Linked DNA regions of Homo sapiens. Changing the gene in region 6 together with the main gene of any one other region gives a genetic interaction. Each region holds a gene or a part of one and is shown on either strand. Other genes may lie near its edges. The genes, in order: NOP16, WDR82, ATP6V1A, CCT6A, DHFR, ATG10 and EIF1AX.

Region 1 (4,162 bases), about 94 Mb from region 6:
GCCCCAGCACCTTACTAGTGCTCCATGGGAGAGAAAAAGCCAGGATGTGGAGCCAACTAATGGCTTCACTTTTAAAATAGACAGGCAAATCCTACTCCATTTCTCATCTAGAAAGAGAGAGAAAGAGCTACCTCAGAGAAATGAAGTAGTCGAATCATATCCAGAGGTTAGGTCCTCATATTGTATATAGTCAAAATTATCTTTGACACGGTTGCCAGGGGCTGGAGGTAGAGGAAGATGGGGAGTTGTTTAATGGGTATAGTTTCAGTTTTGCAAAATGAAAAGGTTTTAGGGACCTGTTGCACAACAAAGTCAATATCCTTTACTGAACAGTGCACTTAAAAATGGTTAGGATGGTAACTTTTATGTGTTTTTTAACCACATTTTAAAATTTTTAAAAATGTTCCTCTTTGACTACAGTAAGTGCCTATGGCTTGGTATATACAATCCTGTGCAGTAATTCTTATGAGAACCACTGAGATAAAAGACAGGAACTCAAGGAATTCTGTATCAAATGTCTGGCCATTCAAATCCTTTATCTTTAGGGGAGCTGCTTAAACTCCCTGACAGGTAAGGGGAAGGATGAATGAAGAATTCTAGAGTATTCCCACTTTCCTGTAGGGTTTACTCTCCTCCGTTTTAGCGTTCACTCTCTATAGCCTTAATATACATAAAATCGATTTTGTCATTGGAACATTTATTGAGATGGTGGAATCCCTAAAAATCAGTTCATCCTTAAATTCATGAGAAGCCATACCCATGCCAGAGATTTACTGGTTTCTCTTCTATTCTCCCAGGCACCTGGGTACATCCTCCCTAAACATCTCTGACCTTAGTTCACACAGTAAGGTCAGGGTTTAGTCAGTACAATGAAAAATGAGCCAGCCAGGACACAGTCCTAACTCTGTGAACTTTGAACCAGCTCACTTCTCCCCTCTGAAACTTGGTTTCTCCATCTGCAAAATGAGGACATCTTAGGGCCCTTCCCAGCTTCCCACAGTGCAGGACAGTGACCTAAAGGAATATATGGACCACACCCACCATTCAGCACATAGGGCTTCCGTACAAGCTCTTTAGGCCTCTCCTCTATGTCCACCTCCATGGCCTTCACCTGCAGAGAACAGAGCCCTTGAGACCAGAAGGATCTTTGATGAGGGAAAGTTATAGACTCCTGCTTATCCCAACACAACTACTAACCCATAAGAATCCCTGCCCACGGTTAGGTAGAAGTAGGTAACAATGAGAACTAATGCCCTGGAGGCTTTTTCTCTCTCTCTCTCTTTTTTTTTTTCTTTTTCTTTTTGAGACAGAGTCTCATTCTGTTGCCCAGGTTCAAATGCAGTGGCACAATCTTGGTTGACTGCAACCTCCCCCCGGGTTCAAGTGATCTCCTGCCTCAGCCTCTCAAGTAGCTGGGATTACAATCATGCGCCACCATGCCCAGCTAAATTTTGTGTTTTTAGTAGAGATGGGGTTTTGCCATGTTGGCCAGGCCGGTCTCAAACTCCTGGCCTCAAGTAATCCGTCTGTGCCTTTTACCCCCAACACAATCTTGGTGACAAGGACTTTGTGTTTTGTTCTCTATTAAATCCCCAGGGTGCTTAGGATGTGACATGTTCTCAATAAGTAGTTAACCTAATGAATGGGCTTCGCGAATGAATTTGTTCCATTGCCTTAGGCAAGTTTCTTTTTATTCTTTCATGCCAGAGGAAAATGGCACTACCATTTCTTGAATAAATGTGAGGCTACAGCCACACAGTTAGATAGTCCCTAAGGCAAGGAGTGTTATACCCATTTTATAGATAGGCAGGCAGAGAAAGATGAATTGCTTGCTTTTCTTTTGGGAACCTGGATTCTTTTAATAGTTGTTGAAGCCTCCAGGGGGCCAGGCGGATCACTTGAGGCCCAGCCTGGCCAACATAGCGAAACCCTGCCTCTACTAAAACCACAAAAATCAGCCGGGTATGGTGGCACACGCTTATAATCCCAGCTATTTGGGACGCTGAGGTGGGATATAGCTTGAACCCGGGAAGGAGACTGCAGTCAGGGAAGCCTAGGGAAGCCTCAGACCAAGGATGATTGAATAACAAAGAAAAGGTGTAAGTAAAGATCTCCAACTCTTAGGGAGTACTAATTAGGAAAGTTAAGGGTAGAAAAAGATAAATTAAGGAAAATACCGTTGAGATGCTAATGGGTTAATTTCAGAGAAAAAAGACTGAGTAGAGGGGGTATGGGGAATGTGTGCTGGGGAGGGAGTGTGACGAAGGTCGTAAAGAGACCCTTGCTCAACGTCAGTTGAGCGTTCTGACTGTGGGGAGGTCGAAAACTCGGAAGGGCCTGAGGGAAGGAATGGGCAGTACCACGTTCTGACACCTAGGTCAGTATGGCGGGGGAAGAGTAAAGAAGACAAGGACCGAGACCCTGCCATGTCAGTACCTTTCTCTTACGGAGGGGCACCGCCCTGTTGGGGTCCACAGCCAACCCCATCTCGGCCAGGTTCTGCCGTACCGATTTAGCGTGGTCCCAGGCATGTCGGATGTGGGAGCTACCGGCAAAGAGAGACATCGCGGATCCGTCATCTCGCGGACCGTCCCGGCCGAGGCCCACGGCCACCCGGAACCCCAGCCCCCTCACCATTCGATCCGCGGCGCTGCCTTCCGTCGAGCATTCCGGTTCAGACGCTTTCGGTTGACACTGTAACCAAACTTCTGCCTCCGGGTTTTGCCCTTGGCCTTGGGCATCGCGCTGACCACCGCACCAGCAGCTCAAACACGCTGCCTCTGTCTCTCAGACCTCGTGTAACAAACTCCTTCCGGAAGGCGTGCACAAGGCTTTGCGGGCATTTGGGGAAATGTAGTCCTTTTGTAGCACTACCGTGCTGAGCACTACGACTCCCAGGATGCAACGAGCATTTGCGCCTGCGTACAAGGCTCAATTTATTCGTTTCCCCGCCCCTTTCATGACCTTCACCGGGAGGCTGAGGTCGGAGTCCCGATTTTCTCCTGCTGCTGTGGCCCGGACATGGCGACTCCCGGCCCTGTGATTCCGGAGGTCCCCTTTGAACCATCGAAGCCTCCAGTCATTGAGGGGCTGAGCCCCACTGTTTACAGGAATCCAGAGAGTTTCAAGGAAAAGTTCGTTCGCAAGACCCGCGAGAACCCGGTGGTACCCATAGGTAAGTGGGTGCGGTAGGAACTGCACAAGGAGAGGACAGTGATGTCGGAGGGAAGGAAGTAGAGAAGGACCAGAGCGCTAGCGGGGAGCGGAAGGAGAGCGGACTAGAGAAGAGACGAGGGGGCGGGGCGGTGAGGGGCGAAACTGATTGGAGCGGGAGCAGCGGGTTTAGGGGGCGGGATTTGGGGCCTAAGATTGGGAGGACTCTGTAACTAGGAAGACCTCGACTCGACCTACCCTCGCCGCCCTCCCTCCGCTGTGATCCAGAGATCTTGGCTTTGGGGAAGCGAGACCCAAAGCGGGGAATGACCTGCGGGGCCCGACCTGCTGTTTCCCAGTTGCTTTGTCCCCTCCTCAGGTTGCCTGGCCACGGCGGCCGCCCTCACCTACGGCCTCTACTCCTTCCACCGGGGCAACAGCCAGCGCTCTCAGCTCATGATGCGCACCCGGATCGCCGCCCAGGGTTTCACGGTCGCAGCCATCTTGCTGGGTCTGGCTGTCACTGCTATGAAGTCTCGACCCTAAGCCCAGGGTCTGGCCTTGAAAGCTCCGCAGAAATGATTCCAAAACCCAGGGAGCAACCACTGGCCCTACCGTGGGACTTACTCCCTCCTCTCCTTTGAGAGGCCCATGTGTCGCTGGGGAGGAAGTGACCCTTTGTGTAACTGTAACCGAAAGTTTTTTCAAAAATCCTAGATGCTGTTGTTTGAATGTTACATACTTCTATTTGTGCCACATCTCCCCTCCACTCCCCTGCTTAATAAACTCTAAAAATCCACTTGTATTTAATTCAGTATCATCCCCATGGTTTTTGGTCTTTGATTTTGGAGGAAACGGACTTTGGAGTGGTGCTTAGAAATCGTGTAGTCTAGTGATTCCCGAACTTTCCTAGTAACAGCCACCCAGGGCACTTTGAAAGCAGAGATTTGGCCAGGCGCAGTGGCTCACACCTGTAATCCCAGCACTCTGGGAGGCCGAAGCGAGCGGA
Region 2 (4,477 bases), on a different chromosome or scaffold from region 6:
TTTCAAAGAACTCCCATATGATTCAATAACTGGTTACATTTTCTGCATTTGCTTCATGACTGTAGGTAAATATTTATATGTACTGTGTGCCTCCCCCCACCTTTAGAGTTGGAGGTATCAAGCCCCTTTATCCCTAAACACTTCAACATGGATTTTCTTTCTTTTTTGAGATGGAGTCTCGCTCAGTCGCCCAGGCTGGAGTGCAGTGGCGTGATCTTGGCTCACTGCAACCTCCGGCTCCTGGGTTCAAGCGATTCTCCTGCCTCAGCCTCCTGAGTAGCTGGGATTACAGGTGCATGCCACCATGCCTGGCTAATTTTTGTATCTTTAGTAGAGGCAGGGTTTCACCATGTTGGTCAGGCTGGTCTTGAACTCCTGATCTCGTGATCTACCCGCCTCAGCCTCCCAAAGTGCTGGGATTCCAGGCATGAGCCACTGCGCCCGGCTCAACGTGGATTTTCTAAGCACAAAGACATTCTTATGTAACCAGAGCACAGTTATCCAAATTAGGAAATTTAGTACTGATACAATACTACAGGGCATGCTCTTGAGTTTTCTCTGATCAATTAATTGTAACCTTGTTTCATTATCTGTGGTGAAGGAGTGGCCTGGTAGTTAGGAGGGAACTGGGTACTAGTTTGGCCTGTGACTAGGTATGTGACATTGGTCAGATTACTTCTTTGGGTATTAGACAACCTCTTTAGTTTCCATTCTAGGCAATAATATGATGAAAAATTTTGTCACTAGTATAGGTCAAACCGACCTCAGAAGAAAAGAAGTATTTCCTTGGGAAGGCATGGTATTGTATCTTTTATTTATTTATTTTTTTGATAGGGACTTTCGCTCTTGTTGCCCAGGCTGGAGTGCAGTGGCTCCATCTCGGCTCACTGCAACCTCCGCCTCCCGAGTTCAAGCGATTCTCCTGCCTCAGCCTCCTGAGTAGCTGGGATTACAGGCATGCGCCACCACACCTGGCTAATTTTGTATTTTTAGTAGATGCGGGATTTCTCCATGTTGGTCAGGCTGGTCTCGAATTCCCGACCTCAGGTGATCCGCCGCCTCGGCCTCCCAAAGTGCTGGGATTGCAGGCATGAGCCACTGCGCCCGGCCTTTCTTTTTGTTTGTTTGTTTGTTTTGTTTTGTTTTGTTTTTGAGACTGCCTCACTCTTTCCTAGGCTGGAGTGCAGTGGCGTAATCTTGGCTCACTGCTGCAACCTCGCTGCTGGATTCAAGCGATTCTCGTGCCTCAGCCTCCCGAGTAGCTGGGATTACAGGCACCCATCAGTGTGCCTGCTAATTTTTGTATTTTTAGTAGAAATGGGGTTTCACAATGTTGGCCATGTTGGTCTCAACATCTTACCTCAAGTGATCTGCCCACCTCGGTCTCCTCGGCCTCCCAGAGTGCTGGGATTACATATGTGAGCCTCCGCACCCGGCCCTGTTTTTTTGTTTTGTTTTGTTTTGTTTTTTTGTTTGTTTGTTGTTAAGACAAAGGTCTTCCCCTGTTGCTCAGGCTGGAGTGCAATAGCATGCTTATAGTTCACTAAAGCCTTCATCTTCTGGGCTCAAGTGATCTTCCCACCTCAATCTCCAAAGTAGTTGGGCCTACAAGCACTCGCCAACTTACTTGGCTATTTTTATTTTTAGTGGAGACAAGTTCTCACCAGGTTGCCCAGGCTGGTCTCAAACTCCTGAACTCAAGCGATCCTCTCACCTAGGCCTCCCAAAGTGCTGGGATTACAGGTGTTAGCTACTGTGACCGGCCGAAGGCATAGTATCTTTATTAGATGACCCTAGTGTTAGAATTTGGGAGTTTGAAAATGGCTAAAGCAAGATTTTGTGTGCTTAGTATTTTCCAGTTTACTGGTCATTTAAATTTTCTTTACAATGGAGTTCGCCCATTGAGTGATATTTCAATTTGGAAGAGTATAAAGGATATTGTTTGTGGTAGGTGAAGCAAATTACTCAAAGTGAAAGGTTAATATTATTTTCCTTGTTGATGCTTGATCACCAGAATTATAGTTTGAGGAAGGAAGCTTACCAAAATATTTGAAAAATGTTGTGCATGTATTTTGTAAGACCCACATGGATGCAGTACAGTATAATCTTGCTTTCAAGTTAGGAAATGAGTCCAGGTGTGGTGGCTCACACTTGTAATCCCAGCACTTTGGGAGGCCGAGGCGGGTGGATCGCCTGGGTCAGGAGTTCAAAACCAGCCTGGACAATGTGGTGAAACCTTGTCTATACAGAAAAATACAAAAATTAGCTGAGCCTGGTGGCAGGGGCCTGTAATCCCAGCTACTCAGGAGGCTGAGGCAGGGAGAATTGCTTGAACCGGGGACGCAGAGGTTGCAGTGAGCCGAGATCGTGCCTCTGCACTCCAGCCAGGGTAACAGAGCGAGAATGTCTCAAAAACATAAAAATAATAAAAATCAAATTGGGAAATGAAATGAGGCAGTAGATTTCTGTTATCAGGAAAAAAAATCTCAGGTTAGTGTTTTTGATAAATTTGAGACAAATAGACCAGATCTAAGTGGAACCAGAAATTTTCCTTACACTATTCTCTTTCAACTTGTCAAGTTAGAGTTGGCTCTTCATGTTCTGTCTTTTTTTTTTTTTAAGACGGAGTTTCGCTCTTGTTGCCCAGGTCGGAGTACAATGGCGCGATCTTGGCTCAATGCAACCTCCATGTCCCGGGTTCCAGTGATTCTCCTACCTCAGCCTCCCAAGTAACTGGGATTACAGGTGCCCACCACCACACCTGGCTAATTTTTTTAATTTTTAGTAGAGATGGGATTTCACCCTGTTAGCCAGGCTGGTCTCAGACTCCTGACCTCAGGTGATCCACCCACCTTGGCTTCCCAAAGCCTGAGATTACAGGCGTGAGCCACTGCGCCCGGCCAGTTTCTGTCTTTGCTATTGTAGATGGGATGAAATAACTGATATAAACTTCTTCCACTGGTAGCAGAGTCAACTATGTAGAGAGTAAGTATACAGCCACACACTGAGACTGCCTCACTGGTTACCACACAGTAACCCCACATCAGAACCCCAGACAGTGCACTTGGCAAAGTAGCCTTTGCTGATCTTTTTAGGAGTGAAGTGTTATTTCAGTAAAGGTAAGAATGTGGAAAATCCAGTGTATTTGTAGTGAGAAGTCTGTTGGAAATGGGTTTCATGTAGGGAAGCCCTTGGCCTCACTTTAACAAAAATTGAAAGTGCAAATAACTGACTTCTTAAAGACTGCTTGAGTCGTGATTGTTTAGTACCTAGATTCTGAGAGGATTTTACATTGAGAGGATTAGCTTTCCTTTTCATAAATTGGAACTCTTGGTTAACATTAGTACAGGATTTATGAAATCTTTCTAAAGAACTAAATGTAGGACATTATGTTAAAGGCTTTCCTGTTTTTTCAGTTGATCGTATTGGAGAGTTATTTTAGCATTTGAATCTAGATTTACATAGATATTTAAGTCTCAAATTTTTATTTTTCTTTTTTTTTTTTTTGAGATGGAGTCTTGCTCTGTTGCCCAGGCTAGAGTGCAGTGGCGCGATCTCAGCTCACTACAATCTCTGCCTCCCAGGCTTAAGTGATTCTCGTGCCTCAGCCTCCTGAGTAGCTGGGACTACAGGCGTGGGCCACCACACCCAGCTAATTTTTGTATCTTTAGTAGAGATAGCGTTTCGCCATGTTGGCCAGGCTGGTCTCAAACTCCTGACCTCAGGCAATCCACCCTCCTCGGCCTCCCAAAGTGCTGAGATTACAGGCGTGAGCCACCACGCCCAGCCTAAAATTTTTCTAACTTAACCAGTATGTGTTAGAGTTTTTGGTTAAAGGTTCTGTTGAGACCAGTTTTAGCCTTGCTCTTCAAGGTTCTGTAAAGGGAGACATTTAAGGAACTTCAACAAATGGAGATTGATAACCTCTAGCTTGGAAATGTGTGATTTTTTGTCTGTTATTGAGGTGGAGTCTCACTCTGTCGCAGAGGCTGTATTGCAGTGGCACGATCTTGGCTTACTGCAACCTCTGCCTCCTGGGTTCAAGGAATTCTCCTGCCTCAGCCTCTTGAGTAGCTGGAATTACAAGTGTGTGCCACCACACCCGGCTAATTTTTGTATTTTTAGTAGAGACGGGGTTTCACCATGTTGGGCTGCTCTCGAACTTCTGACTACAGGTGATTTGCCTGGCTCGGCCTCCCAAAGTGCTGTGATGACTGATGTGAGCCACCACCTTGTGGCCAGAAATGTGTGATTTTGCTTTAAAGTAAAAGCAAAGGAACTATTTAACTGGTTTTGCTAGAGAAAGTTAGGCTTGCCTTCTAAAAGGCTCAGCAAGCGCTTTTGACCTGTAGGATAGGAAGGATGGATGTCTTCTGCAAGAGCAGGTTACATTAGCAAAGGCAAGCAGTTTTGCATCTGGTTTCAGTTTTGAGGAATCACTGCCGTCTTGAAAAAAAAAAACACAGAGCTTCTTTCT
Region 3 (4,477 bases), on a different chromosome or scaffold from region 6:
TTTTTCCTTATTTTATTTTTGTTTAGATATCCTGTACTGATATTTATTATTACTATTACTCATCTTTGTAGGAGATGAGAGGGCTGGCTGTGACTGTGTACCAGGGTAGCAGGAATTCTTCATGGTAACTTGTGAAGTTTATTATGGCATGCAGCTGTGTAAAAAAGCTATTTTACTCTTCTTGCCTGATACCAGAAATCAGCAGCTGTAAGACCATTCACAGTGAATTCTCCTCTGTCTCACCCACTTTTCATTTAGTGAAAATAGGGAGTACCTACTTGTGTTTTATTCATCCCTATCTTCCTGCTTCTCTTTGATGCCAAACTGAGTACAAGGAACTCCTTCCTGCGACTGGCCATGTAGCTTTTTGCAGTGTTCCAAACAAAGCACTCTTGCTTTGTTTGGAAACAAACAAGGCACTTGAAGATGTGCCTTCAAGTTTGCAGAAGCTTTATCTGAGATGCATGGCCTCAGATGAATTCTTGGCATTTTTCCATACCCTTATTTGGTTTTCACCTTATTTAGGTGACTTTTTAAATTATATTGTTGTGGGACTATGTCTCCTAGTTTTTAATGACTAAATTTGTATTTCTGTATTTCTTGTTCTCCTTGTTTGGAGGTAAGTTTTATGAGGAAGAGACAGTGACATATTCATCTACCATTTTAAGAAAGCTACCTTATTCTTTTAAATGGCTGCACAGTATCCCTTTGTATGGATATATCATAATCAATTTAACTGGCATCTTTTTGGTGGACTATTGGATTCTTTATCGTCGTTTACGATAGGCAGCACTAAAACATCCTTAAACATATATTTTTACACTATTCTTTGTATGTTTTGCATGCATGTTTCTTTGCATGTTTTTTTTTTCCTTAGAGACAGGGTCTTGCTCTATCACCCAGGCTGAAGTGCAGTGGCATGTTCATGGCTCACTGCAGCTTTGACCTCCTGGTCTCAAGGGATCCTCTCATCTCAGCCTCCCAAGTAGCTGAGGCTACAGACATGAGCCACCATGCCTGGCTAATTTTTTTATTTTCTGTAGAGATGGGGGTCTCACTATGTTGCCCAGGATGGGCAACTTCTAGCCTCAAGAGATCCTCCTGCCTTGGCCTCCCAAAGTCCTGGGATTATAGGCATGAACCACCATGCTTGGCCTCTTTGTACATTTCTTAGGGTAATTTCTTAGAAGCAAAATTCCTGCCAATACAGCTGCTAATTATTATTTTACATTCTGATAGCCCTTCAAAAGGGCTAACTGTGGACAAGAGTTTCTGCTTCTCAACATCTTCACCAATGCTAGTTTTTTCAACACGTTCTTATGATAATTATCAAAGATACGGAAAAGTTGAAAGAATGTTACAGTGAATACCATGTACCCAGCACTTAGATTTGACAATTGAAATTTTAACTATTCTTGCTTTATTAGATACCTGTTCAATCTGTATTTAACAATGAACTAGCATCTTTCTTGTGTGTATGAACCATTTAAAAACTGCCTTGTGTTCATTTTCCTTTTGGATGATAGTTGTTTTTCATACTGATTTCTAGAAACTCTTTTTGGTTTTTTGTTGTTTTTTTTTGTTTGTTTGTTGGTTTTGAGACAAAGTCTCACTCAGTCACCCAGGCTGGAATGCAGTGGTGCGATCTTGGCTCACTGCAGCCTCTGCCTCCTGGATTCAAGCAGTTCTACAACCTCAGCCTCCCGAGTAGCTGGGATTACAGGCATGCACCACCACCACACCTGGCTAATTTTTGTATTTTTAGTAGAGATGGGGTTTCACCATGTTGGCCAGGCTGGTCTCGAACTCCTGACCTCGGGGGATCTGCCCACCTTGGCCTCCCAAAGTGCTGGGATTACAGGCTTGAGCCACCGCGCCTGGCCAGAAACTCTTTGATTAATGAATAAATTCGTCCTTTATCTGTCATGAGTTGCAAATATGTCCCAGCTTGTTTATCTCTTGATTTTGTCTGAGGCATATTTTTCTTGTAGGCACTGATACCTGTAGGTCTGTCAGAGAATTCTCACTTACTCATATGTATCTGTCTTTTCTGCCATTTCTTTCTAATATCACAAGTATCTGTGACATTTCATCACAGATTTAAAACACAGCATGCTTGTATAAGAAAGAATCTGTTCTTATTAGATTGGAATATGTGGTAATTATTGTGTTGTTGAAGCCTTAATATTGATAAGTAATGTTTCCTAAAGACTTTCTTCATGAGACCATTTTATGGATGCCTGAACAGTCAGTATTTTTTATTCTGAAAGATGCAATATGATAAATAGGAAAGTACTGAATTTTCCACTAATTATGTTAATTTTACTTATATAAACCTCTGTTTCTTTACCAGTAAAATAAAAAAACCAAGGCATTATAAAAGTTCCAAAATCTTTTGGAACTTTTATAATATAACTATATATTTTTCCTAATATCTTAGTGTTTCATAGCGCTTTGTACTTTTTAGATGACATTTATTTAATTCACTTCATCTGCCATATATACAAGTATATAGGGCAGGCGTTATTCCATTTTTAATAGGTTAGGAAGCCACACTGGGAAATCAAGTTATTTTGCTAAGGTTAATGACAGAATAGGAACTAGAACCCAACACTCGTTTCTGTATATTAGCTGCTTATAAGTGGTTTACTGTCTAAATTTACAGGATAGGACCTGATCTGCATAGCAGAATAATCTGGACAATTAAGATATTACTCATTTTAATAACATTTGCTACTTTTGAAAAGTAACCACCCAAGCTGATTGGTTAAGGGTTACTTTTGCATGCATACATGTTTGTGTGTGTGTATGTGATATATAGAGAGAAGCTACATTTGAAAATTAATTTCAGACTTAATTATTTCAACAAAGAATAGAGAAAGTCATTTCCTGCTTTCTAAAATGTGCATTATATTAGGGCCAGCTAGGCTATGGCATCAAATAATTCCAAATATATATTTGCTCAATATAATAGATGTTTATTTCAAGTGTTCAGGGCACTCTTTACTCTGTCATTCTGAGCCATGATCCAGCCTGAAATGAGCTCTACCATTTTCAACACATGGCTTCCAAGACTACTGGGAGTTCTTTCCATTTCAGTAGGCCAGAAGGAAGAAAGAGTATGGAAGAGCGTGTGACTTGCCTGACCGTAGAACACATTATTTTGACTTGAGTTTTGTTAGCCAGAGATCAGTTACATGGCCATATCTAAGTGCACAGGATGCTAGGAAACAATTCAGTGTGTGCCCAGAAAAAGAGGAAGAGCAGCTTTGAGGGAGCCACTAGCAGTCTACGTTGTGTACTTATTGCTTTAAGGTTTTCTTAAGGGTGGAAAAAAACAGGATTTTTATATGCTAGCATTGTAACTTATAATAATATTCTTCCCAATTTAGGAATCACACTGTCAGAGTACTTCCGTGACATGGGCTATCATGTCAGTATGATGGCTGACTCTACCTCTAGATGGGCTGAGGCCCTTAGAGAAATCTCTGGTCGTTTAGCTGAAATGCCTGCAGGTAAGTCTGTGTATTGCTTATCATGTAAACAAGACTGATGGGATTTTCGGGGCTGGCTTAGAAACTCTGTTTTAAAATTTCTTTTCATTTTTCAGATAGTGGATATCCAGCCTATCTTGGTGCCCGTCTGGCCTCGTTTTATGAACGAGCAGGCAGGGTGAAATGTCTTGGAAATCCTGAAAGAGAAGGGAGTGTCAGCATTGTAGGAGCGTAAGCACCCACACTATTTACTTTGCAAAAGGAAAAAAGTCACAGATGTATTAAAGAGAGAAAAAAAGTCACTTATTTTAAAGAGAGAATATTTAGCTCCCGCTGGGAGCAGCGGTTCTTAAGGAGGGTTGCACTCCAGAGTCACCTAAGGAGCTCTTTGAAGATGCACATGTTTAGGCAATTTCTACATGTCCTGGTTCCATAGGTTTGACTTTAATTTATATATTTATATGTTTAATTTAGATATTTATTTAATTTTTATAATTTAGAAAATTATAGACATAATAAGGTGAGATTGCATCACGGTAAAAAGAAAGTGAAGATTCGTGATCACTACATAAAGCCATACTTTTTTCTTAGAGCGTTTCCTCCTTGCTTCATCTATTTGATTAGAATAATAAAATTGATTATAATAAAATATCTATCTCATGTCTCATAATAGAAGGTGTTCTGTAGTTTCTATTGTTGTTTACAACTTAAATACTGGCTTTTGTTTAAGATTTTTAGGTAAGATTTTCTTTCCAAAGGTCATTTCTAAAGTTATTTACATTAAAAAGTTATTTACATTAAAATCGACTTTAAAAAAAGTTAACATTTATATATATGTTATTTTTCATAAGCATTTCTAATGACCATTTTTTTTGTAATGACCATATTTTTTTTAAATTTAGAGTTTCTCCACCTGGTGGTGATTTTTCTGATCCAGTTACATCTGCCACTCTTGGTATCGTTCAGGTATGTCTTTCCCTAGT
Region 4 (3,500 bases), on a different chromosome or scaffold from region 6:
CTAAAAATGGAATGTTTAGGACTAGGCATATTTGTTAGGAAAAAGGCAACCAAAAGCTTATATTTGGATAAATTCCACTTTTTTAGCCCTGACTAGTTCCAAGGTTAAAGCAAACCTCAGTGAATATGAATGTATTGTCAGAATTTCCTGGAGAAAGAGAACAGTCTTTATTTTTATTAGTAAATGATGTGAGTTAGTTTGAGATTACCTATAGAAAGGATAGAATAGTCCAGGCGCAGTGGCTCACGCCCATAATCCCAGCACTTTGAGAGGCCGAGGTGGGCGGATCACCTGAGGTTGGGAGTTCGAGACCAGTCTGACCAACATGGAGAAACCCCGTGTCTACTAAAAATACAAAAATTAGCCAGGCGTGGTGGTGCATGCCTGTAATCCCAGCTACTTGGGAAGCTGAGGCAGGAGAATTGCTTGAACCCAGGAGGTGGAGGTTGTGGTGAGTCGAGATTGTGCCATTGTACTCCAGCCTGGGTAACAAGTGCGAAACTCCATCTCAAAAAAAATGAAAGAAAATAAAGATAGGATAATGCTACCATCTGTGAGTTGTTGGGACACAGTGTTGGTTTTGAAATGATTCAGAGTGGTTTGCACAGTGAACACCCAAGTGTGCTTTATAGTTCCCTTGGCTTTGACCCTGTGCTAGAGCATTCATTACCTGTTCATCTGCTCTGCATTGAAAGGAATATTTGTCCTTTTAAATGTATTCAGAAAGCCAGCACATTATATTACCTCGTGTTCAAAGGTATGATGATCCAGAACACTCCTTCAATAATTACCTGAACTTTATCATGAACTATGGTTGCACCTAATTGAAGATGCAAGTGTTAATGTGTGTTTATTTTAGGGCCTTCATCCTAGAATAATCACTGAAGGATTTGAAGCTGCAAAGGAAAAGGCCCTTCAGTTTTTGGAAGAAGTCAAAGTAAGCAGAGAGATGGACAGGGAAACACTTATAGATGTGGCCAGAACATCTCTTCGTACTAAAGTTCATGCTGAACTTGCAGATGTCTTAACAGAGGTATGTATTAAATTTTGTCTATGTCTGGTATAGTATACCTATATAGAAAATCTCTGATAGTAGAAACATGAATATGATTACCAATTTCAATTACAAGGTGCTGTGTAGGTTCATTTTTGTGGCAATGATACCTAATCTGTGTCTCTAAAAATGAGGAAATTAAAATAATAGTATACCTAACCAGGTTATAAAAGTAAAATTGAAGCTTTCATTAAAAGGTTTATAAAGTGGAGATTTTTTTATTAGAAAGCTTCCAGTTACCAGTATTTTTAATAAAACGAGGAATGTTAATGTTAATTAATGTTAATGTTTGGGAATTATAGATGGAGATTTCAGAAATGTAAATGACTTCAGCTGTTGCCTTTTACATATAATGTATTCTATTTGCTGATAGAAAAAGACTTAAATCAGTGTAGAATTGTAAAATGAAACTGCCTACTTTAGCCTTCTGAAAAGCAACATGTTTCTGCTGCAAATTGAATTTACTTAACGGTTATGCTCCTCCAATTGCAGGCTGTAGTGGACTCCATTTTGGCCATTAAAAAGCAAGATGAACCTATTGATCTCTTCATGATTGAGATCATGGAGATGAAACATAAATCTGAAACTGATACAAGGTAGGTGGTAGAAGACTGTGAAATACTAATGGGCATGGAGGCTCACACCTGTAATCCCAGCACTTTGGGAGGCTGTGGTGGGCAAATCACCTCAGGTCAGGAGTTCCAGACCAGCCTGGCCAACATGGGGAAACCCCGTCTCTATTAAAATTACAAAAATTAACCAGGCGTGCCGGGCATGACTGTAATCCCAGCTACTCGGGAGGCTGAGGCAGCAGAATAGCTTGAACCTGGGAGGCGGAGGTTGCAGTGAGCTGAGACCACACCATTGCACTCCAGCCTGGGTGACAAGAGCGAAACCCCGTCCCATTAAAAAAAAAACAAAAACAAAAAATAAACTGTGTTTAGAAATTTAGGGGTGCTTTGTACAATATAGATAGTTGGCTTTTTTTTTTTTTGAGATGGAGTCTTGCTCTGTCGCCCAGCCTGGAGTGTACAGTGGCATGATCTCGGCTCACTGCAAGCTCTGCCTCCCGGGTTCACACCATTCTCCTGCCTCAGCCTCCCGAGTAGCTGGGACTACAGGCGCCCGCCACCATGCCCGGATAATTTTTGTATTTTTAGTAGAGACGGGGTTTCACCATGTTAACCAGGATGATCTCGATCTCCTGACCTCGTGATCCGCCCACCTCGGCCTCCCAAAGTGCTGGGATTACAGGCGTGAGATGGCAATTTTAAAAATATCTTTGGATATAAAATGTTATATATTTACCTGAAGATATAAGTTGGATAAACTGCTAGGAGAATATTGTTTTTAGTAATATTTTCTCCTGAAATAAGGTGAATGTTATGTTTATGGTTAGAATGATTCTGAAAAGTGAACAACATCAGTCATTTGGCATTTATTGAATTGCTAGGTACAAAGCATAATGAGAAGTAGTAGAGGAATTTAAAAAAATATTTTTTTCAAAGAGTTAGTTAGAAAACATGTTTGTTTTCCCTTTGGGGTGTGTGTGTGTGTGTGTCTGTGTGGAGAATGGAGTCTCCCTATGTTGCCCAGGCTGGTTTTAAATTCCTGGGATTAAGGTGTCCTCTCACTTCTGCCTCCGTAAGTGCTGGGATTACAGGTGCTTGGTAGAAAACATGTTTTTAAAGGACGTCATCACAGTTTGACAGCCTACCAGTGAGACCATCTCTGCAGACTTTTCTGTACAGCGTAGGATCTTCAGGTAATTTAAGAAATAGGCCGGGCGCAGTGGCTCATGCCTGTAATCCCAGCACTTTGGGAGGCCAAGGCGGGCGGATCACGAGATCAGGAGATCGAAACCATCCTGGCTAACACGGTGAAACCCCGTCTCTACTAAAAATACAAAAGAATTAGCTGGGCATGGTTGTGGGTGCCTGTAGTCCCAGCTGCTTGAGAGGCTGAGGTAGGAGAATGGTGTGAACCCAGGAGGTGGAGCTTGCGGTGAGCCAAGATGGCACCACTACACTCCATCCTGGGCAACAGAGCGAGACTTCATCTCAAAAAAGAAAAATGTGACTGCGTGAAATATCAATACCTTCTCATTTCAGTGTTTAATATATTAAATACCCATCTGAAAATCAATAACCATAATTTTGTGTGTGTTTAAACAGCTTAATCAGAGGGCTTGTTTTGGACCACGGAGCACGGCATCCTGATATGAAGAAAAGGGTGGAGGATGCATACATCCTCACTTGTAACGTGTCATTAGAGTATGAGAAAACGTAAGTTTATAGCCCCTTAACAGTGAAATGGAGAAGCTTCGTATTTTAGGCGAGTTACTTTTTTGTGAAACTTTGTTTCCCACTGTAAGGACAATAATGCTCAAATTGGTTTGGGGGAGCTATAGGAAACAGTCTCTGAAGATGCATAAGGGGCAGGATTG
Region 5 (3,606 bases), 1.5 Mb from region 6:
CAGAGCTGGGACAGATGCCCCTTATCAGTGGACACCTTGAAGTAGGTTTTGGATGGGCTGATGTTTCTTCTTCTGACCCTAAAACTTCCTGTCAGGATGCTGGCATACTCGTCCACATGACTCGGATATCCCTTTGCTCCTGAGCCTGTGCTTCCTGTAGAGTCTTGATTTTAATTGTATTTTGGTTTTTTGGTTTATTTTTTGTTTTTGAGATGGAGTCTTGCTCCGTTGCCCAGGCTGGAGTGCAGTGGCACGATCTTGGCTCATTGCAACCTCCACCTCCCAGGTTCAGCGATTCTCCTGCCTCAGCCTCCCAAGTAGCTGGGATTACAGGCACGTGCCGCCATGCCCAGCTAATTTTTGTATTTTTAGTAGAGACAGGGTTTCATCATGTTGGCCAGGCTTGTCTCGAACTCCTGACCTCAGATGATCCGCCCGCCTCGGCCTCAGCCTCCCAGAGTGCTGGGATTGGAGGCATGAGCCACCGCACATGGCCCAAAAACTTCTTGATATGTTGCTTTTGTCTTATGAACTGACAATCTTGACACTTGAGAATTTTGCACAAAAAATGTATGTAGATGTTACTTTTCATGACTCATTCCAGAGAGACTAAAATTATAATAGAAAATGGTTAATAGAAACATTGCTTCTTCCCCTGAAATATAAATTATTCCAGAAAGTATCTTTTTCTTTTCCCTATAATTTTGTTACATTGTATCTCTGTTTTTGTTTTTTTTTTTACCAAAAATGCATAATCTCTAATTAGTCAGCAAAGGTTAATGTCTATTATTACTCAGCAATGTATTGAATATCATGAGACTTAAAAGTTTACTGTGTTGTCCCTGCCTACAATGAGTTTAAAAAATAGAGAAACGAGGCGGGCGGATCACGAGGTCAGGAGATCGAGAACATCCTGGCTAACACAGTGAAACCCCGTCTCTACTAAAAATACAAAAAATTAGCTGGATGTGGTGGCGGGTACCTGTAGTCCCAGCTACTCGGGAGGCTGAGGCAGGAGAATGGCATGAACCCAGGAGGCGGAGCTTGCAGTGAGCCAAGATTGCACCACTGAACTCTAGCCTGGGCTACAGAGCGAGACTCCGTCTCAAAAAAAAAAAAAAAAAAAGAGAAATGAAACAAACCAATAATACTAGTAGGCACCATTTATAGAACACTTGATGTGTTAGGCACAATGCTACATTCTTTTTTGGTTTTGGGGGATGGGGGCGGAGTCCTGCTCTGTCACTGAAGCTGGAGTGCAGTGGCGCCATCTTGGCTCACTGCAACCTCTGCCTCCCAGGTTCAAGCAATTATCCTGCCTCAGCCTCCTGAGTAGCTGGGATTACAGGCACCCGCCACCATGCCCGGGTAATTTTTGTATTTTTATTAGAGACAAGGTTTCCCCATGTTGGCCAGGCTGGTTTCGAACTCCTGACCTCAAGTGATCCACTCACCTTGGCCTTCCAAAGTGCTGGGATTACAGGCGTGAGCCACTGCACCTGGCCAACAATGCTACATTTTTTACAAGGATGAAGACTTTATTGACAGCCAGGCTCGGAGGCATGTCACACAGCAGAACCAGAGTGAAGCACAGTCTGATTCAAGCAGGCGTTCCTGACCACCTGGAGCATACTGGGGTGCAGCCTGCATAGTACTGAAGAAGTAACCAAAGATTGGGGTTCATTGGAGGCTGGAAGGGTCAGAAGATTCCTCAGTGGAGAAGCTGGGTTTGGAAGGGGAGCTGGAGAGAACACAGGCTTAAGTGAGAGTTAGGGAACAGGAATAGCAGATCCTAATAAAGGAATTACAATCTGCCACACATTGTGGAATTAGGGCAGTATAGTCTCCATCAATCAAACAGAAGCAGAGAACCTGTCACTGTCCAGGGCACATAATTTCAGTTATGTTCTAAACAGCTTCAGATTGTATTTTTGTCTTTTGCTTACACAAGAAATGTGATACCAAATGTAAGTCTTGCAAAAAATTCTTAAGAAATTTCCTGTTAGCTGGGTGATAGAGTGGAAAGATACAAGGGAAACTGCTGACTGGTTTTTGAGAGAATGAGGAATCCAAAGGAAACAAAAAAGGAGAAATTACACTTTTTGTTTTCTAACTTTCTATATAGTTTACAGTTTTTTTCTTACCATTTGCATATGTAGTATACTAGCATGATATTTATCCAACTTGACAGTGGCTTACCATTGTGAAGAAAAAAGGGAAACCTTTTATTTGCTTTATGCACTATTGATGCATTTAAACTGAGAATCAGGGAAGCTGTGTTTTTAATGGACACATAATTTAATTATATATTTTTTCTTACAGATACCCAGGTGTTCTCTCTGATGTCCAGGAGGAGAAAGGCATTAAGTACAAATTTGAAGTATATGAGAAGAATGATTAATATGAAGGTGTTTTCTAGTTTAAGTTGTTCCCCCTCCCTCTGAAAAAAGTATGTATTTTTACATTAGAAAAGGTTTTTTGTTGACTTTAGATCTATAATTATTTCTAAGCAACTAGTTTTTATTCCCCACTACTCTTGTCTCTATCAGATACCATTTATGAGACATTCTTGCTATAACTAAGTGCTTCTCCAAGACCCCAACTGAGTCCCCAGCACCTGCTACAGTGAGCTGCCATTCCACACCCATCACATGTGGCACTCTTGCCAGTCCTTGACATTGTCGGGCTTTTCACATGTTGGTAATATTTATTAAAGATGAAGATCCACATACCCTTCAACTGAGCAGTTTCACTAGTGGAAATACCAAAAGCTTCCTACGTGTATATCCAGAGGTTTGTAGATAAATGTTGCCACCTTGTTTGTAACAGTGAAAAATTGAAAACAACCTGGAAGTCCAGTGATGGGAAAATGAGTATGTTTCTGTCTTAGATTGGGGAACCCAAAGCAGATTGCAAGACTGAAATTTCAGTGAAAGCAGTGTATTTGCTAGGTCATACCAGAAATCATCAATTGAGGTACGGAGAAACTGAACTGAGAAGGTAAGAAAAGCAATTTAAAGTCAGCGAGCAGGTTCTCATTGATAACAAGCTCCATACTGCTGAGATACAGGGAAATGGAGGGGGGAAAGCTGGAGTATTGATCCCGCCCCCCTCCTTGGTTGTCAGCTCCCTGTCCTGTGTGTGGGCGGAACATAGTCCAGCTGCTCTATAGCAAGTCTCAGGTGTTTGCAGTAAGAAGCTGCTGGCATGCACGGGAACAGTGAATGCCAAACACTTAAAGCAATTCGATGTTTAAGTATGTAAGTTCTTTTTTTTTTAGACAGCGTTTCGCTCTTGTTGCCCAGGCTAGCATGCAATGGTGTGACCTCGGCTTACTGCAACCTCCGCCTTCCCAGATTCAAGCGATTCTCCTGCCTCAGGCTCCCAAGTAGCTAGGACCAGGTGCGCGCCACCACGCCCGGCTAATTTTTGTATTTTGTATTTTTAGTAGAGATGGGGTTTCACCATGTTGGTCAGGCTAGTCTCGAACTCGTGACCGCAAGCGATTCACCCACCTCAGCCTCCCAAAGTGCTGGGATTACCGGCTTGAGCCACCACACCCGGCACATCTTCATTCTTTTTATGTAGTAAAAAGTATAAGGCCAC
Region 6 (4,477 bases):
TCATTGTTGTTACTGTTTTAATGAGAGGTAGAAATGAGCTAAACCAACCTGCTTCATTCCTTCTAGTACTAATTTAATTTCAAAGGAAATTCTTCAACCCCAATAAATAAGTGAAAGTGGATGGAACCAGGGTCTGACTCAACATGTCCAATTAATTGCTTCTAAACAGTAAGGTACATTCTTTTAAAAGCCCCACACACAAAAATCAACCAGTAAAAAATGATCAGGTGAGAAGTGAGATGACTATCATCATCTCTGCTTACAAAACTCTGTTCAAGTTGACATTAATATTTGCCATCTACTCTATTATAAATCAAGATTTATTGTAGAAATATACCAAAGATAGCACAATAATGAAGAAAACAGAATCATCTCAGGTTTTGAAATATACCTAACAAATTCAACCTCTTGCAAAATAACTTTCTTATTCAAAATGGAACTGGGAATTGTTCAGCACACAATGAATCATCTTTTGGCAAGTACAATAGAATCTTTAGGGACATTTCACAGCCTCTTGTTCAATTGTTAGGATGTTTTTAGCTTTCACAGGTAGGGAAGAAGGTAGCTTATATAGCCATCATCTTGTTGCTAAAATTGTACAGTAAAGATTTTTCAGGCAATAGATCTTTTCAGATTTTTTTTTCCTTTTTCTTTATCCAGAGCCTCTTTGTGTCTCAAAAACAATCTGGAATTACTTAATGCTAATGTTTTCTGGTTTTACTATTTACCCAGGACTCAAATGTTAAACATTAATATGGGAAACTCCCTTTTCCTTGCCTCATAGCCTTATATTTATTTAACTGTTATTTTGTGAGAAGAAAATCTCCTCTTTTCCTCTCCATGTTAGTACTTTTCTTATTAAGAAACCCGTTTTCGTTTTGTTTTTGCTTTTTTTTAGGAGGCTTTCGAGCTACCCTTGGATGATTGTGAAGTGATTGAAACTGCAGCAGCGTCCGAAGTGATTAAATATGAGTATCATGTCTTATATTCCTGTAGCTACCAAGTGCCTGTACTTTACTTTAGGGCAAGCTTTTTAGGTAAGAACATGTCTGAAGCTAAAAGTAAATTTATAACATTTACATATAAAGCAAAAAGCATATTTGGAAAATTATTCTCCAGAGGAAAAAAAATAGAGTTAAAAATGAGAAAACTGTGGGTGAGGTAAGGTTTTACCACTAAATTTTCTCATGCTTCAGAAAGGGTATCAAGACTTCAGCGTGAATGATATCATCTCAGCCTTAAGTCTGATCTTCAGATTCTTGGCCTTTTGCCTGAAGTTGACTAAGCCCCCTGGCCCTTTTTCTTTTCTTTACTTTAAACAAGTAGGAACAACTTAAAGCTACAATGTTTATTTACTTCTAACTTTACAGTAAAAATTTATTTTAATCTCAGATGATCCAATTAACTCAGAAGCTCCTGTGCCTCCTTCCCCAAAAGCTAATAATTATTTTAAGAAATGTTTATCAATTAGCTTAAGCTGTATTTAAAAATAGCACTAACATTTCCTTCAGCCATCTATACATCTCCAATGCCTTAGCTTCCTGTGATGCTGTTACTCAACTCATTCCCCTGCCAAGAAGGTGGAATACCCTGTCTCCTTGGAGGCCTTAGCTAATAAAGCTTATTTAATCAGCAGCCACATGGCGTCCTCACTCTGCAGCACAGCCATGGCTTCCCGCTTAGAGTCCACTGCCTAAACCGGGTCAGCATTGGGATGTGCTGCCACCCAGGCCCAGGGACCAAGATGAGCCTCCTGTTCAGCCAACCCCTTGCCCTATTTCTCCTTTTGTATCTGGCCTTATCAGCAGCATTGTGCATTTTGAACAGCCTTCTGACTTTTTTCTGGATAGCTAAGACATCTGAATTTAGCCAATGATATTTTATTTTTAATTCAAAAGTAGCTTAAGCTGCTTGAATGTATGTTTGGTAGATTTAATCACTTGCTGTTATATTGTTTAATGGTCTCTAATTTTGCAGTGTTGGCAGTTTAACAAGCACTTAGGATTTAAAACACAAGAAGAAATTCTCATAGACTCCCTGGTGAGAAGATTTTAATCTGAGGTGCAGTTCCTAAGAACTGACAATTTGGGGTAAATTTTCAACATGGGACATGGGGAATGGAGGACACTGATAGTTCACTAATTCACAAACTCTTGCTGTGGATTTATCCATATAATTATTACAAGCCTTTAAAACACTCATTTTATGGTAATTATATTTGGTTTGGAGCCCAGAGGTTAAAGGAAGTTTCTTGTCAGTGAGCTGTGCTATACTAAAAAGTAGGAGATATATTTGTTTATTCAGGGGGAGGAAAATGTCTTTCTTGGTTCTGGTTTGCAATGGCTCTGCCTTCTAGATTCAGAGACAAGTCGAGGCTGCAGGTAGAGGAAATAAGACATTACTTCTTCAATACTGTACTTTCATATAATTAGTATTCACCATAAGCAGTTAATCACCAGAGAAGAGCTCCCAGAGACAAAACAAGTTGTTTAGCTTGTCAGCATTAGGGAATCAGAGGTGTTGAAACATGACTGCTTCTAGCTGGAAGTGGGTCTTGCCAAGGCCTGCTGATGAGCTCATATGTGTGCTTTGCTCTTATGTGCCAACAGCTCCCCTTACAGTACAGCACAGTAATTGTTCCTGCAAGTCCAATTATATTTTAATGACATTGGTGTAGTTTCTGTGATCCTTTCTTCACGATTTTCTATTCTTTTAAAAAAACACAATTAACATTCTTGGCTTCTATTTGTATACTTTTACAATGCCCTCCATTTATGCCTTATAAAGGTAAACCAAAACAAGTCATTTGTTTTTATGTAGAAGCATTCGCCCCCCACCACCACTGCTTTGTGTTGTGTAGAGTGGGTATTAGGAATTTAAAATTTTATTTTGGCCCAGAATTCATTTAGTGCTTGTTCAGGTACATTAAAATATCAAATTTAATTTTTGTGCAGCATACTGAATGTTTTCTGGTGGAGAAACATGAAGAATGGTTCTTTCTTTCCTTTATCATATTCTAATAATTTATTTTTTCTTTCCACCTAACTTAACCTCATGGATATTTTTAAAATGTATCAACCTTTACTCTGGAGTCACAATTTTTCATTTATTCCCCCCCCAGTCTTTTTTATTCTCCTTACTTTTTCCTGTGATATCTGATTACTCTGGCCCTTCATCTGTTTGTTAAACAAATCTCTGTCAGTGTGGTGAAAGGATTCCTAATGTCTTCCTCTTATTCCAGGCCCGGATTTTTCTTTGTCTCATTCTAAGAGAGTTCCGACCTAGAAAGAGGATGACTGTAAAATTTCTTGCCCAGGGGTCTTTTTTTGTTGTTGTTGCTTCAAAAATAGTTCACTTAGCCTTGTTTTTGACAGATATTTATAATTTCTTTTGCATTTGATTGTTAGTACAAATTAATTTCTCTGCTTTGCTCTAAATTTTCTCCCTGTACCTATTTTTTTAAGGAAAAGCAAAACAAGTAATAAATAGTTTCCATTTAAATTTACATTACCCTTTCTTGTATCAACTTGTTTAGATTTCAGAAGAAATCTTTACTCTGGTTCTCGAAATGCAAATCCCTTAGACTTTGAATTCCTTTTCTTTATATGGTCCAGTTTCCACCAGGCCAATTACTAGTAGCCCAAGACTCAGTTAACATGCCATCTATTCTTGTCGCTCCCATGTCATGTCATGTCATATCATATCATATATTCTATTATATCACAATTTGTACTATAGCAGAAATATTTGTTTATATCTATAAAATGATATGCTGGAACATAGAGCTTCAAGATAAAAACAAGAGTGAAGGAAATTGATACTGAGTGCCTACAAAGTGAGAAGCTTTATTTATGGCTTTGTGTGTATACATGTATAAGATATATGTATGTATATATATGGCTTATTCAGCTGTGGCACAGCATCAAGTATTTGTTAAGTGAAACGATAAAGAAGAATTTCTAGTCATTTAAAAAATACAGCCCAAGAATGGAAACATTGTGATGGTGCCTACTTCAACTGCTATGCCAGGTTTTGAAAGAGGAAGTAATTCTGTTGTCTCCAGGAGACCTAAGACCCAAACCATCTATGTATCTTTACTCTTTAGTCTGATACTTTTCAGAGACTATAGGAGTAGTGGACTTAGAAAAATAGAACATCCTGAGGACTCAAAAGTGGGTATCCAAACTAGCTGAAGCAGCTGTTCCACTTCTATAAACACGTATTTTTATTTAATTCTTGAAGGCAGACAGCCAAGTTGAGACAGCATTCTGCTTCTGCCTCTCATTTCTACTACTTTGGTGTACAGGAGCTCAGTTACCAAGTGGGCAACGTGGATTTAAGAGAAGAAATAAGCCCTTCCATCCCAATGTTCTGTTTTTCTCTAACTACTTTTGTCATTGTAGGTTTGGGAGAGGTGGTGGGACACAGTTAATACCCTTTGTCACTCAGGAGAGGGTGAGACATAATTGCACGTCTG
Region 7 (4,477 bases), on a different chromosome or scaffold from region 6:
TTCATCTGATGTTCTTTTCCCTTCCAGATCTAAATTGAACTCAACATTTTACATTCCATCTTTTCTGAAGATTGTCCTACAATTTGGATTTTGATCATGACAAAGAAGATTAAAATTTCATTAGCATGAATGCAATTTGTTAAAGCAGACTGATTTGTTTCTAAGATATTTTTGGTTTTTTTAAAACTGATAATAATGCTGAATTATCTTAAGTGAGATGTTAAGCCCACTTTGTTCTTTTAATGTAATGGAGCTTATGGGTAGAAGACCATGTCTACTAATTACAAAAAAAAAAAAAAACCATGCATTGCTGCTTTTCCTACCACTTCCAGTAAGAAAATGGGTGTTTTGAAGAAATCATTTGCCTTGTCCTCACGGAATCTGATTAAGCCCTGGCCTCTTGATTGTATAGAGTCATTGTGTATATTCCAGTTACCTAGATATTCCCTTGAGATTTTGATACAATTTGAGGGAGGCAGAAGTCTGCAGTTGAAGAAAAAAAATAAGTCTGTTTGTCATATTTAAGTAGCCTGTGGCTATTTTTATACTGATTTTGATATCATGTTCTTTTCATAGTCGTATTTTGCCACCGTAAACATAAAAAAAAAAAAAAAGATTTCCAAAATGCCGTTTTCAGAACCTGGGTTTTAATAGCAGTATTGAATTTGTAAGCTTAGTAGTTGCAGAAATTGAACACTAGGTGGCACTCAGTTATCTTAACAGGGGAAGTACTGATACAATTGTTGACTTTTCTTTTACTATGTGTAAGAAATACCCCAAACATGAAAAGATTGTTTTGATCATATGCATGTATGTAGAATATTTTTGCAGAGCAGAAAGATTATGTTAGAAGTGTGATTTTTATTTTCAGAAGTCATATACATGTAAGCTACAATTTTGAGTGCTTTATAAACACTTAAGATATATATATAAATTTTAATTTCATAGCAACTTGTAAAAAATAAAATACTTGTTGAAAAGCCTTTTTCAACATATCCCTAAGCTAAGGGAAGAGGAAGGAATAACAACTCAGTGAAAAGATGGTCTCCAGTTTCTGAATGAAAAAGCTACAGCTGAGAAATAAAATAAAATGTCATGCTGCAGAATATGTTATACCCTTATTTTGTGTTAAGGATATATTTTATTATGTGAATGGTTTTGTTTTTGTTTTTTGTTTTTGTTTTTTGCTTGTATTGGGAATTAGCTTTACTGGTAACTTCCTTATTTAGTTTTTAGTGGTCAACTCTAATAAAATGAAACTAGGGCTGAGCTAGTTAGCCCTCACTAGCCAAACTGAAACTCTATGCAACATTAAAAGAAGAGATCCATCATGTAGCTTGTGACACTTTTATTTTATTAGTCACCGGGGAACTTTTCAGTGATGAAAATACACAGGGTAATAAACCTTCACATGGCTTCAAAAGGAAAACAAGCAAATCTTCTCTAATCTACTCTTACTATAATTTCCTAAGTGTACACCAAACTCTGGATTTAAAAATCTGAAGTACTATAGAACATTAAGTTGAAGAATGGAAATTAAGAGTACGTATTCATGGTTTATATTTCTTATTCTATGGAGTTCGTGAACACATCTAGGTGGAATGCATCTGAGACTAAGGGCTGGTTTTTAATCCTCATAAGAAACCAGCCTTGAAGAATTAACAATTCTCTTCATTGGTATTCTAAACCTCCTAAGATATTTAGGCTTCTGTACATAAAAGTGTTTTTGCTAAATTTACAGTATATATAGATCCTTTCATATTATTTTACTAAGAATGTTTGAACTTTGCATATTTGATATAGTTCCTGGTAGGAATAGCACAGCTCAAACATTAGTTTTTCTACTTACCTCCTCTAACACGTGGTTTGTCTGGAGAGTTTCTAAAAATTCAGCTATAACCCCAGTTCATGTATTTACTGGTGATTGTTCTTGCTGAGGTAGTAACAGCCCAATCTTGGGCTGTTAAATCCTAGGAAATCTCGAATCATAGTGATTAAAATAGTTGGGGTAAAGTTGTAGCTTATATGCAATACTACTTGGAGGAATTCTTCTACTAATTTGTATTTAATGTGGAAATTGTATAGTTTCATTGATTTAATCATAAATAATGGAAATGGTCTCCAAGAAGTTTTATTTTTCATTTTTTTGCTTATACACTCTGATTCCTATAATACAGTGCTATAAGCTATGCACAGAAAATAAAATGTTTGAAATCCAAGAATAATGGTTCTTACTGCTAAGAGGGAGTAATAGTTATTACTAATGATTTTGATTGGGTTGCATTTTTGTTGCAATGTTTATTCCACTTGCAGTTAGAATATGAATATGTTTTATCACTAGTGTGGCTAAATAACCAAACATTTGTGTAAAAAAAAAAAAAAGCCAAGATTTCATTGTTTGTTGAATATTTCTTAAGCATCTGGCCCCTAAAGAGACCGCTTCTTACCAAGCCTGTAAACTATGCATGATGGAAATTCTTGTATTTTATTTAGGAATGGCTGTTGGTTTACTCACCACATCTGTGGAATCATGGCTATAAATGTTTGCTTACAAACTCTTTGTGACTTGTAATTTAACTTAATCTCATCTAATGTAAATATTAGATTATGATGTTCAGTAACATCTTCCATAGGTATAAACTGCTGTCATTATTGATTTCAGAGTAACTCTGAGTAATCAAATAGGTAAAAGCATGTTTTGAGTAAAATAGCTAGATTTATACTTTACTTGTATACAGACTTAACAACAACCGGTATTGACTGGATTGACAGCTAAAGTATCAGAATGAAAGCAAGGTTTTTTTGATGTTACCTGACTGTCATAAAGATGAAAATGATTTGTATTGGTATGAAATGCTTATCTTTATTCTACTTCGTAAGGGTAAGTTTTATTTATACTCTTTGGACTCCCATGAACTTTTGCACACTGCTTTGTGTTTTTGGTTTACCCTAAACTACCATCCTTTTTATCTTTGCTTTTTTTCTTCCTATTCAGAAAAGAGCAAAATGTGAAAAGACACAAGACTCTCAGGTATAGAATGAACTGAGCAATTTGGAGAATGTATTGGACTTTGTCCTCTCTTATTCCCCCCTCCTAGCCCTGCAAGTTGCTAGGTACTTGTGAGGCAGTGTACTGGAGAGGGGAGAGCATGGATCCTGGGGTCAAAGGGCCTTTGCCCCCACCCTTACTTGGCCCTCTACCTGCAGGTGACCACTGGCACATTCTCCTGCTTGTCTCAGCTTCAGGTTCTTCACCTCTAAGATGGGGATGATGAAAACAGTACCTGTCATGCAGAATTGTTGGGAGGATTGATAATTTAGATGTTTATACATGTAATGTACTTAGATCAGTGTCTGCTCTTTTCACTTGATATCCAGTACTATGTAAGATAGAAGGTGCATGTCTTCTGTATTCTGTATTTCCCATTTCTTTTGCGTGCAGTCTTTGATTCGTACAATAGAAGGAACACGTAGAATGTATATTTGTACATTCATGTCAACATAGTATTTGAAATTGCTACCAAACTCATTTAATTTGGCATAAGACTAACAGATGAAGTCTCTCATTTGCTTGAAGATATTTTACAAAATACCAACTGTTCTATATTTCTTTAGAAAAAGATTATAGTTATTAATATTGATACCTCTGATAATATTTTATTCTTAAATCTTCAGTGATTCCTTTTACTATAGATTCATGACAGCTAATTAGTACTAACTGATTTAGAGGTTTCCTTTCCCATCATATGGAATGATGTAAAGAAATCAGATACAAACTACTGCAATTAGAAAATAAAATATGAACAACTTTCAACAATGTATACAATTGATTCTTTTCTAACTTTATAACATTTTAAACTATTTATTCATATGACTCTTTTCCAAAAATTTGCTGTTTTTAAAACTTAATTGTGATATATAAGGAAAAGGTATACCTTGTTTTTATTTTTGTCTGTTTTTGGTTGTTTGATCTGAATGAATCCATTTAGCCATATTCCAGATATGGGGTTGCATTTTCTCAGCAAGTGAATTTGTCACAAATCTGTGCTGAAGAAGGCATTTTCTAATGGTAAGTCACTTCAGCAGAGTGACTTCAGATTGCAAAGTCACATTCAACAGACCTTTACTTTATACGATGCAGAGACCTATAGGTGAAGTAAATACTTACACTTCTGGCCAACTTGCCCCCTTTTAAAAGCCCAGTCTGTACTGCCATTCCAGTCCATTGTTTTGTTCAGTTCACAACTTGATGTTGGTAGATCAGAAAGTAGGGACAAAGTCCGAGTCAAGTCCCATTGCTGATTTCTGTGCTGTCAGATACAAAATTAGTTGGACTTCGCAGATTTGATAACGTTTAATACATATTTACAATTTTAAACCTGTCTTAGGAATCTAACAATGGGATTTTTTTTTGTTGTTTTTTTCTTGAGACAGAGTCTCACTCTGTCGCCCAGGCTGGAGTGCAGTGGTGCAGTCT

The links.
Region 1: of ATG10 (region 6) and NOP16, changing one suppresses a phenotype caused by changing the other (phenotypic suppression), as found in Homo sapiens cells (one large-scale study listed by BioGRID).
Region 2: of ATG10 (region 6) and WDR82, changing one suppresses a phenotype caused by changing the other (phenotypic suppression), as found in Homo sapiens cells (one large-scale study listed by BioGRID).
Region 3: of ATG10 (region 6) and ATP6V1A, changing one enhances a phenotype caused by changing the other (phenotypic enhancement), as found in Homo sapiens cells (one large-scale study listed by BioGRID).
Region 4: of ATG10 (region 6) and CCT6A, changing one enhances a phenotype caused by changing the other (phenotypic enhancement), as found in Homo sapiens cells (one large-scale study listed by BioGRID).
Region 5: of ATG10 (region 6) and DHFR, changing one suppresses a phenotype caused by changing the other (phenotypic suppression), as found in Homo sapiens cells (one large-scale study listed by BioGRID).
Region 7: of ATG10 (region 6) and EIF1AX, changing one suppresses a phenotype caused by changing the other (phenotypic suppression), as found in Homo sapiens cells (one large-scale study listed by BioGRID).

The regions. Positions count from the first base shown.
Region 1 is NC_000005.10:176,385,799-176,389,960, forward strand, and holds the start of NOP16 (nucleolar protein 16), read right to left. Parts: upstream 2,801-4,162; 5' UTR 2,742-2,800; coding exon 2,635-2,741; coding exon of another isoform or gene 2,546-2,634; coding exon 2,437-2,545; intron 1,146-2,436; coding exon of another isoform or gene 1,112-1,145; coding exon 1,042-1,111; intron 222-1,041; exon of another isoform or gene 132-221; intron 1-131. Other genes in the region: HIGD2A (HIG1 domain family member 2A, mitochondrial), read left to right, coding at 3,022-3,175, 3,533-3,699.
Region 2 is NC_000003.12:52,271,574-52,276,050, reverse strand, and holds part of WDR82 (WD repeat-containing protein 82), read left to right. Parts: intron 1-4,477. UniProt on the Homo sapiens protein: Regulatory component of the SET1/COMPASS complex implicated in the tethering of this complex to transcriptional start sites of active genes.
Region 3 is NC_000003.12:113,791,480-113,795,956, forward strand, and holds part of ATP6V1A (V-type proton ATPase catalytic subunit A), read left to right. Parts: intron 1-3,392; coding exon 3,393-3,515; intron 3,516-3,610; coding exon 3,611-3,725; intron 3,726-4,396; coding exon 4,397-4,460; intron 4,461-4,477. UniProt on the Homo sapiens protein: Catalytic subunit of the V1 complex of vacuolar(H+)-ATPase (V-ATPase), a multisubunit enzyme composed of a peripheral complex (V1) that hydrolyzes ATP and a membrane integral complex (V0) that translocates protons.
Region 4 is NC_000007.14:56,054,765-56,058,264, forward strand, and holds part of CCT6A (T-complex protein 1 subunit zeta), read left to right. Parts: intron 1-600; exon of another isoform or gene 601-738; intron 739-859; coding exon 860-1,033; intron 1,034-1,546; coding exon 1,547-1,650; intron 1,651-3,228; coding exon 3,229-3,339; intron 3,340-3,500. UniProt on the Homo sapiens protein: Component of the chaperonin-containing T-complex (TRiC), a molecular chaperone complex that assists the folding of actin, tubulin and other proteins upon ATP hydrolysis.
Region 5 is NC_000005.10:80,627,882-80,631,487, reverse strand, and holds part of DHFR (dihydrofolate reductase), read left to right. Parts: intron 1-2,322; coding exon 2,323-2,401; 3' UTR 2,402-3,606.
Region 6 is NC_000005.10:82,163,501-82,167,977, forward strand, and holds part of ATG10 (ubiquitin-like-conjugating enzyme ATG10), read left to right. Parts: intron 1-898; coding exon 899-1,037; intron 1,038-4,477. UniProt on the Homo sapiens protein: E2-like enzyme involved in autophagy. Acts as an E2-like enzyme that catalyzes the conjugation of ATG12 to ATG5. ATG12 conjugation to ATG5 is required for autophagy. Likely serves as an ATG5-recognition molecule. Not involved in ATG12 conjugation to ATG3.
Region 7 is NC_000023.11:20,123,862-20,128,338, reverse strand, and holds the end of EIF1AX (eukaryotic translation initiation factor 1A, X-chromosomal), read left to right. Parts: intron 1-27; coding exon 28-33; 3' UTR 34-3,814; downstream 3,815-4,477. UniProt on the Homo sapiens protein: Component of the 43S pre-initiation complex (43S PIC), which binds to the mRNA cap-proximal region, scans mRNA 5'-untranslated region, and locates the initiation codon. This protein enhances formation of the cap-proximal complex.